Linked DNA regions of Homo sapiens. The protein of the gene in region 1 purifies or fractionates together with the protein of each later gene. This does not show direct contact. Each region holds a gene or a part of one and is shown in the gene's direction. Other genes may lie near its edges.

What was found. The genes of interacting proteins can lie anywhere in the genome.
Region 2: the proteins of SPRYD7 (region 1) and SBF1 purify together in Homo sapiens (affinity purification with mass spectrometry; one large-scale study listed by BioGRID and IntAct). This does not show direct contact.

What each region holds. Positions count from the first base shown.
Region 1 is NC_000013.11:49,921,849-49,927,220, reverse strand, and holds part of SPRYD7 (SPRY domain-containing protein 7), read left to right. Parts: intron 1-5,372.
Region 2 is NC_000022.11:50,450,966-50,454,535, reverse strand, and holds part of SBF1 (myotubularin-related protein 5), read left to right. Parts: coding exon 1-24; intron 25-3,570. UniProt on the Homo sapiens protein: Acts as an adapter for the phosphatase MTMR2 to regulate MTMR2 catalytic activity and subcellular location. Promotes the exchange of GDP to GTP, converting inactive GDP-bound Rab proteins into their active GTP-bound form.

The sequences.
Region 1 (5,372 bases):
GCCTAGCCACACATGTATTTCTTAATTTGTTATGAAATTCTATTAAGAGAATTACAGCATTTTATCAGAAATGTTCATCTTCATTAAACTTAACCTAATTAAACTCTTCAGAGAACGGAACTCAAAATCCTAAAGCTTGATCGTAGAAAAGTTTTTTTTTTAGAAAGCAGAGGATAGTAAAAGTTACACGTTATTAAGACTTTTCTGTTTTTACTCCTAACTGGCTATATTTAACTCTTTACAAAGCTAGCACATTGAAAATGTAATCCAAAGATTTCTTTCTGTCTTTTCCAGATACTTCCTTCCACACTGCATTATCCAAAACCCCTCCCTATCCAGAGGTCAGGCCATTGATTTAGAACAGAGTCCTAGAGTCTCCTTCAGCCGAGGTGCCCTTGTACACTGAACCTTGGGTTCTCAATTCTGATATCAAGTTGAAAGGAATCTATGAATAATGAGAGAAGGATTCTAATAAGATGAAAAGATAAGAGAAATCCAGGTTAATTAATTATGAAAAGGTACAGTATTTTAGAAAGAATGAAGAAAGGTGTGGAAATTAAGATTTTTAATTACGGCCTGATCTTTCTTCTCTTTTTTGCAATTTAAAAAATATGAACAACTGTAAGTTTTTAATTGTTGGAAGTTTTTTTTCCAGAATTGACTAAAGAAAAAAAGGAGATGAAAGGCATAAGCCATTAAAAAAATCTGCTTTTTCCCATGCTTTTTGAATAGTTGGTTCTGTATTTGTAGATCATTGCCAGATGCCCATAATATGGAACATCCTTATTCAAATGGTAATTTCTTGAAAGAGAATCTTGAAGTCAAGTTGATGCTGTCAACCTGTTTACCCTAAAAGATGAAATTCAAACATAAGAAAGGATAATCAGTAACAAATGTTTTTCTTTGTTGATGAACTGAAACTTCTACCTGCCTTCCTATCTCATTTCATTCATTGTAATGTCTGATAGCACAGTGTGACAGACTGAAGAATGCCACTTTTAGTCTGTCAGTGTTGTTAAATTAGACTTCGAGTTTTCATATGAGCTCATTCTCATAAAAGGAGAACTAAAACTATGAAATACATGCAGAGCCAAGAAAAGAAAAACATTACCCTGCTATTTTAACTAGTTCAAACACTGGAGAACAAATTTTACCAAATTGTTAACAGTGGCATGCAATAAGTAGAATGGATTATAAGACAGGAAAAGCATTCTCATGTGTTTAGAATTTAAGTCATGTACCATTCTCTGAGGAGAAATCAAGAAAAATAAGCTGTGAACATCTAACCAAATGATTATATGATTATATTCATATGATAATCACCCAGTACAGCACGGCCTGCTACAGAACTAGAAAGACATACATGAAACAGTTTATGCTCACTTTCTCCTTTTTTTTTTTTTTGTTTTCAGATGGCCACTCGCTCTGTCACCCAGGCTGGAGTGCAGTGGCGCTATCTTGGCTCACTGCAAGCTACACCTCCTGGGTTCACGCCATACTCCTGCCTCAGCCTCCTGAGTAGCTGGGACTACAGGCGCCCGCCACCACGACTGGCTAATTTTTTTCATTTTTTACTAGAGACGGGTTTTCACTGTGTTAGCCAGGATGGTCTCCAACTCCTGACCTCATGATCTGCCCACCTCGGCCTCCCAAAGTGCTGGGATTACAGGCGTGAGCCACCGTGCCCGGCCTACTTTCTCCTTATACATATAATTCTGAAAAGTACAAATTTCATTCTAACATGCATGTATCAGTTTACTTTTAGAGAAGTCTTATAAACATTCTATGTAATAATAACAATAACAAACACTTCTAAGCATTTATTTATTGAGATGGAGTCTCACTCTGTTGCCCAGGCTGGATTGCAGTGGTGCCATCTCGGCTCACTGCAACCTCCACCTCCTGGATTCAAGCGATTCTCCCGTCTCAGCCTCTCTAGTAGCTGGGACTACAAGTGCGTGCCACCACGCCTGGCTAATTTTTGTATTTTTTAGTAGAGACGGGGTTTCACCATATTGGACAGGCTGGTCTCGAACTCCTGACCTCGTGATCCACCCACCTTGGCCTCCCAAAGTGATGGGATTACAGGCATGAGCCACCGTGCCCAGACCTAAGCATTTATTATGGGCACTGCTCTAAGTGCCTGGCAAGGATTAAATTGTTTAATGCTCATAATGGCCCTTTGAAATAGGTATTATTATTATTATTATTATTATTATTATTATTTATTTATTTTTTTTTTTTGAGATGGAGTTTTGCTCTTGTTGCCCAGGCTGAAGTGCAATGATGCAGTCTCGGCTTACTGCAACCTTCACCTCCCGGGTTCAAGCGGTTCTCCTGCCTCAGCCTCCTGAGTAGCTACAATTACAGGTGCCTGCCACCATTCCCAGCTAATTTTTTTGTGTTTTTAGTAGAGACAGGGTTTCACCATTTTGGCCAGGCTGGTCTGGAACTCCTGACCTCAAGTGATCTACCCACCTCGGCCTCCCAAAGTGCTGAGATTACAGGTGTGAGCCACCACGCCCGTACGGTAGTAGTATTATTATCCCCATTTTACAGATTAAGAGAAATTAAGTAACTTCTTATGTGAGTTAATTACAAGACTATATAGCTCAGCCAGATACTATGGCTCATGCCTGTAATCCTAGCACTTTGAGAGGCCAAGGCAGAAGGATCCCTTGAGCTCAGGAATTTGAGACCAGCCTGGGAAACATAGTGAGACCCCATCTCTACAAACAAACAAACAAATAAATAAATAAATAAAATTTAAAAAGAAAATTAGCCGGGCATAGTGGCATGCCCCTGTAGTTCTAGCTACTTGGAAGGCTGAGGTGGGAGAACTGCTTCAGCCTGGGAGATAAAGGCGGCAGTGAGCCGTGATCCTGCCGCTGCACTCCACCCAACCTGGGCCACACAGAGCAAGACCTTGTCTCTGGCCGGGTGCGGTGGCTCACGCCTGTAATCCCAGCACTTTGGGAGGCCGAGGTGGGCAGATCACCTGAGGTCAGGAGTTCGAGACCAGCCTGACCAACATGGAGAAACCCCGTCTCTACTAAAAAAAATACAAAAAATTAGCCAGGCGTAGTGGTGCATGCCTGTAATCCCAGCTACTCGGGAGGCTGAGGCAGGAGAATCACTTGAACCTGGGAGGCGGAGGTTGCAGTGAGCCGAGATTGCGCCATTGCACTCCAGCCTAGGCGACAAGAACGAAACTCTGCCTCAAAAAAAAAAAAAAAGACCTTGTCTCAAAAACAAAAACAAAAACCAAGATCATACCTGAAGCAGTCTAATTTCAGAATCTGTTCACTAACCTGCACACAATTATTAATAAAGACATAGAACACACAGTATATTTTGCTATCATTTTGGCAGAATCAAACCCAGTTTCTTCATCATAGAATAGATTAGGTTAGAAAACACTTGAACTGGCCCATCACAGTGGCACATGCCTGTAATCCCTGCACTTCGGGAGGCTGAGGCGGGCGTATCACACTGAGCCAAGGTCGCGCCACTGCGCTCCAGCCTGGGCGACAGAGTGAGACCCAGTCTCAAAAAAAAAAAGAAAGAAAATACTTGAACTAAACTATACTGAGGGTGGGACTTCTCACATCTTTCCTCACTTCTTTGGTACTGGGATTTTGCTACTGCAGGCTTGGGTTTAAAACTTGCTTGTTTGAGGCTGGGCGCGGTGGCCAACGCCTGTAATCTCCGCATTTTGGGAGACCGAGGCGGGCAGATCATTTGAGGTCAGGAGTTCAAGACCAGCCTGGCCAACATGGTGAAACCCCATCTCTACTAAAAATGCAAAAATTAGCCAGGCATGGTGGCGGGCGCCTGTAATCCCAGCTACTGGGGAGGCTAAGGCAGGAGAATCTCCTGAACCTGGGAAGTGGAGGTTGCAGTGAGCCAAGATCATGCCATTGCACTACAGCCTGGGTGACAGAACGAGACTCTGTCTCAAAAAAAAAACAAAAAACAAACTTGTTTGTTTGCAATCGGCCACTGGGGGATGAAAGTGCCTGGATTACAACCTCACTGATCTGAACTGCTAGATTTCTGGTAGTCCCATAATGAGAGTAACATACTTTCTTTTTTATGTAATTAAGTTTTTGTTTTTTAAAATGAAAACAGACTTTTTCATTAGAAAAGTGAATCCCAGCCATCAGCTAGCTTTATTACTATTATCTAAAGACATAAACTAAAGCGAAGCAAAGGCAATCTATGTACTATTTATCTTTCTCAGTATTCCTTAATTATTAATAATTGTTTAAGTTAACCCTGGCTTTGCTAAGAATTGAGAATCTTTCATACCACTTACCACATTAGCTTCTCTGGGCTTTTGCTGTCTTGCTTGTAAAGAGAGAGAATTTAAGACTAAGATGATCTATAAAATTTTTTTTTTTTACCTCTAAAAAGCTTTTAACTTGATAGAATGTATCCACAGTCAGAAATCCTGAAATCCTTGAAGTGGTTTGCTTCTTGGTCTATGATGACTTCTCTATTGAAAGATCTCTGCTGTCTTTCAAGGGAAAGATCTCTTTTTGTTATCAGTTAGTAGCTATTGTATAAAGTTTTAAAGAGAGATATGGTGATTAAGAGCAAGTGTTTAAAGAGAGGCATGGTGATTTAGAGAGAGGTATTGTGATTAAGAGCAAGGATTCTGAAACCATACTGTATGGATTTAAATCACAGCTTTTCCACTTCCTAGCTGTGCAACCTTAGGTAAATTACTTAATCTTTCTGTGCTTTAGCTTCATCTGTAAAATGGGGATAGTAATACTGTCTTGTTGTGAGGATTAAATGAGTAAATATGAACTGCCTAGAATAGTAGCACTATTGGTTTATAACATGGGCTAAGTCTTTTCTAGCCTTTTATTTATTTATATAAATAATTTATATTTATACAAATAAATATTTTATTTATATAATTATAAAATAATTATTTTAACAATAATTATTAATATCACTAATTGTGATTTTTTTCCATCAATAGTGTACCGAGTAATTTTATTACATTGTTTTTTAAATCATTTGAGCTACTATTTTTGTTTTTTAACTTGAAACTAATTACCAATTTTATTCAGTTGTGAACACCAGCTTTTCCTTGATAATACACTTGACACATTTGAAACCAGAGTAAAGAGATGTAGAAATGTGTTATTTCTTCCTGGAAATAAAATGTATAGAGACGTTTCTTCATAATTTGAAAACAGTGACAGGTAGTAAGTCCTGACAGTGAAAAAAACCTCATTGTTTTTCCTTCTTTAGATCAAATTCTGTAGAGAAAGAGCAGCGTTTTCTGTATGAGTGTAAAAGGTTTCTCTATTCATGGTATGTAGTACTTATATTATCTTAGCATTCAAAATATAAAA
Region 2 (3,570 bases), on another chromosome or scaffold:
GACGCCATCTCACGCCTGCTGGAGGTGCGTGTGATCCCAGAGCAGGGTCTGGCCTGGCACCCCCCTCCTCTCGCTCAGACACCAGGGTCGTGCGTGTGTGTGTACACTCGTACATGCACGTAAGTCCGGTTACCCCTGGGGGTTGGTGTGGCCCTGCCGTCTCCCCACCATGTGAACTGCCTACTGGCCTGGGGTGGCTGTGGCTCCCCAGGGCCCCGCACCACTCAGTGGGTGCTTCCAGACAGTGACAGGAGGGCCGTCATCAGAGACCCTCAGGTCTCAGTACACAGCCTCCACTCTGAGCACGTGTGTTTTCCCTGACCTGGCTTTGAGCAGCTCAGGCACCTGTTGAGGAGTCAGCCCTTAGAGACGACAGTGTTTTACTCCCTCTGCCAGACCGCCTGCCCCACCTAACGTGAGCAGCTCTGGGTTCTTGCCCTGAGAGCTTGGGGTTGACATTGAGGCCTCTCTTACCCCTCACTGTGCCATCCCTGGTGGGCCTGGACTGAACAAGGCAGAGATGCCTGGGAGGGAGAAAGGAGACTGCGATTGGGTGGTGGCTGGGTTGGTGTGTAAGGCCTGAGGCAGTGTCCTGCGCGTGGTGCTACCTTTTGGGGCCATCCCGGAGTCTCTGTGGGACTGAGCAGGCAGAGGAGTGTGGACCTTGGACCTAGGCCACGGGGGGACCTGCACTCAGCTCCCCACTGTTGGCTGTGTGGCCTTAGAGGTTATCTTTTTTTTTTTATTTTGAGATGGAGTCTCGCTCTGTCGCCCAGGCTGGAGTGTAGTGGCGCGATCTCCGCTCACTGCAAGCTCCGTCTCCCGGGTTCACACCATTCTCCTGCCTCAGCCTCTCGAGTAGCTGGGACTACAGGTGCCCACCACCACGCCCAGCTAATTTTTTGTATTTTTAGTGGAGACGGGGTTTTACCGTGTTAGCCAGGATGGTCTCGATCTCCTGACCTCGTGATCCACCTGCCTCGGCCTCCCAAAGTGCTGGGATTACAGGCGTGAGCCACCGTGCCTGGCCTAGTTATCTAAGCATCTTAGAGCTTCTGGTTCCTTGTGCAGAAAGTGGAAATGCTGATTCCTGCCTTACAGGGAAGTTGTGAGGCTTAAATGAGTCATTTATTTCAGTGACTTAGCATGGGGCACAGGGTTTGGGGGAGTACGGGAGTCATGGTTTGTGATGGAGGTGACCCACAAAGCACAGACAGCAGTCCCTTTTTCTCTCTAGCGATGCTCATTGTCTTAAAGTTGACGCGGTCTCATTGGTGCTAACAGAGTCACTCAGCTTTGTCATGACCAGTGTCAGCTTGCTCTGTTGTTTTCTTGTATTTTTTACTGGTCTGTGTGTTTATGTTTAAGGTGAGTTTCTTGTACACAGAATGTAGATGTAGTTGGGTCTTCTTGTTATCCAGTCTAATGGGTTTTTTTAATTGGAATTTTTAGCCCATTTTAATTTACTGTTACTATTGATGTGGCTGGGTTTAAGTCTGTCATCTTGCTCTTTGTTTTCTCTTTGTCCCTTTGATTTTTTTTCCTTTCTTTCTTTTCTTTTTTTAAAAAACAAGTGTTTTTAGTATTCTGTCTACTGTGAGTTGAGCTGTACATCTCTGTGTTGTGTTTCAGGGGTTGCTGGGGGCTATAATCATCTGACTTGAAATTACATCACCCTGTTGACACCAGAAGAGCCTTACGGCAGTGTGTGTCCATTCATGCCTTTCCTGTCCTGTTACTGTCACACATTTTATTTTTACGTATGACATAAACACCCAGTATGGTTTTTTTTTTTTTTTTTTTTTTTTTTTTGAGAGATGGAGTCTCCCTCAGTCACCCAGGCTGGAGAGCGGTGGTGCGATCTCGGTTCACTGCAACCTCTGCCTCTGAGTTCAGGTGATTCTCCTGTCTCAGCCTCCCAAGTAGCTGGGATTAGAGGCACCCACCATCATGCCCGGCTAAATTTTTTTTGTATTTTTAGTAGAGACGGGGTTTCACTGTGTTGGCCAGGCTAGTCTCAAACTCCTGACCTCAGGTGATCCGCCCGCCTTGGCCTTGCAAAGTGCTGGGATTACAGGCGTGAGCCACCGTGCCCGGCCCTGTTTTTGTTTTAAATAGTCAACTTTGTTTTAAGGAAATTAAGAAAGAAGGAAAAAGTCTTCTATTTTTGCCATTTATAACATTCTTCATTCTTTCAGTATAATCTGGTCTGGTTATTATTTCTCTTCAGCCTGAAGAATTTTTAATATTTCTTGTAATGCAGAGCTGCCAGTCACAAATCCCCTCAGCTTTTGTTTATCTGAAAACATCTTGGTGCCTTTATTTTGCAAAGGGCATTTTCTCTGGATATGCATTTCTAGGTTGACAGCTGCTTCTTTTTTTTTTTTTTTTTTTTAATTCAGCAGTTAAACTGATGTCACTTTAAAAGATCTCATTACTAGGCTGGGCGCAGCGGCTCACGCCTGTCATCCCAGCACTTTGGGAGGCTGAGGCAGGTGGATAACCTGAGGTCAGGAGTTCGAGACCAGCCTGGCAAATATGGTGAAACCCCGTCTCTACTAAAATATAAAAATGAGCTGAGCATGGTGGCGGGTGCCTGTAATCCCAGCTACTCAGGAGGCTGAGGCAGGAGAATCGCTTCAACCCGGGAGGTGGAGGCTGCACTGAGCTGAGATCGCGCCACTGCACTGCAGCCTGGGCGACATGAGTGAGACTCTGCCTCAAAAAAAAAAAAAAAAAAGATATTACTTTGTTTTCTGGCCTGTATTGTTTCTGCTTAGAAGTTGGTGTTGATTCTTATCCTTATAAACTGTGTATAATGGCACCCTTTGATTCTCTGCCTTAAGATTTTGCATTTAATTTTGGCTTCAGCAATTTGACCATTGTGGTTTTTGCTTTCGTCCTGCTTGGGGCTCTTTAAACTTCTGGGTCTGTGGGATGATCATTTTTGTCAAATTTAATACATTTCAAGCCATTGCTTCTATAAATTACTTTTTCTGCATGATCTCTCCCTTTCCTTCTGGAACTTTATTGTCCCATACGTTGCTGAAGCTCTGTTTGTTTTTTCTCAGTCTTTATCTTTGCAATTCATTTTGGATGATTTCTGTTGGCTTGTCTTCAAGTTCACTACTCTTTTCTTTCTTGTTTTTAATATACTGAAGCCCATCAAATGAATTTTTTTTTAATTTCTTGAGACAGGGTCTTGCTCTGTTGCCCAGGCTGGAGTGCAGTGGCACAGTCATGGCTCACTGCAGCCCGAACCTCCCAGGCTCAAACAATCATCCTGCTTCATTCAGCCTCTTGAGTTGCCAAGACTACTGGCGTGGGCCACGTGCCGGCTACTTTTTTTTTTTTTTTTTTTTTTTTTTTGTAGAGATGGGGTCTCCCTATGTCACCCAGGCAGGTCTCAAACTCCTGGGCTCAAGCAGTCCTCTCACCTTGGCCTCCTAAAGTGCTGGGATTACAGGCATGAGCCACCACACCCGGCCCCATCTAATGAATTTAACGCTTTTTATTGTAGAGATTCCCCATCTGATAAACCATTATGTCCATCTTTTCTTTTAAATCTTG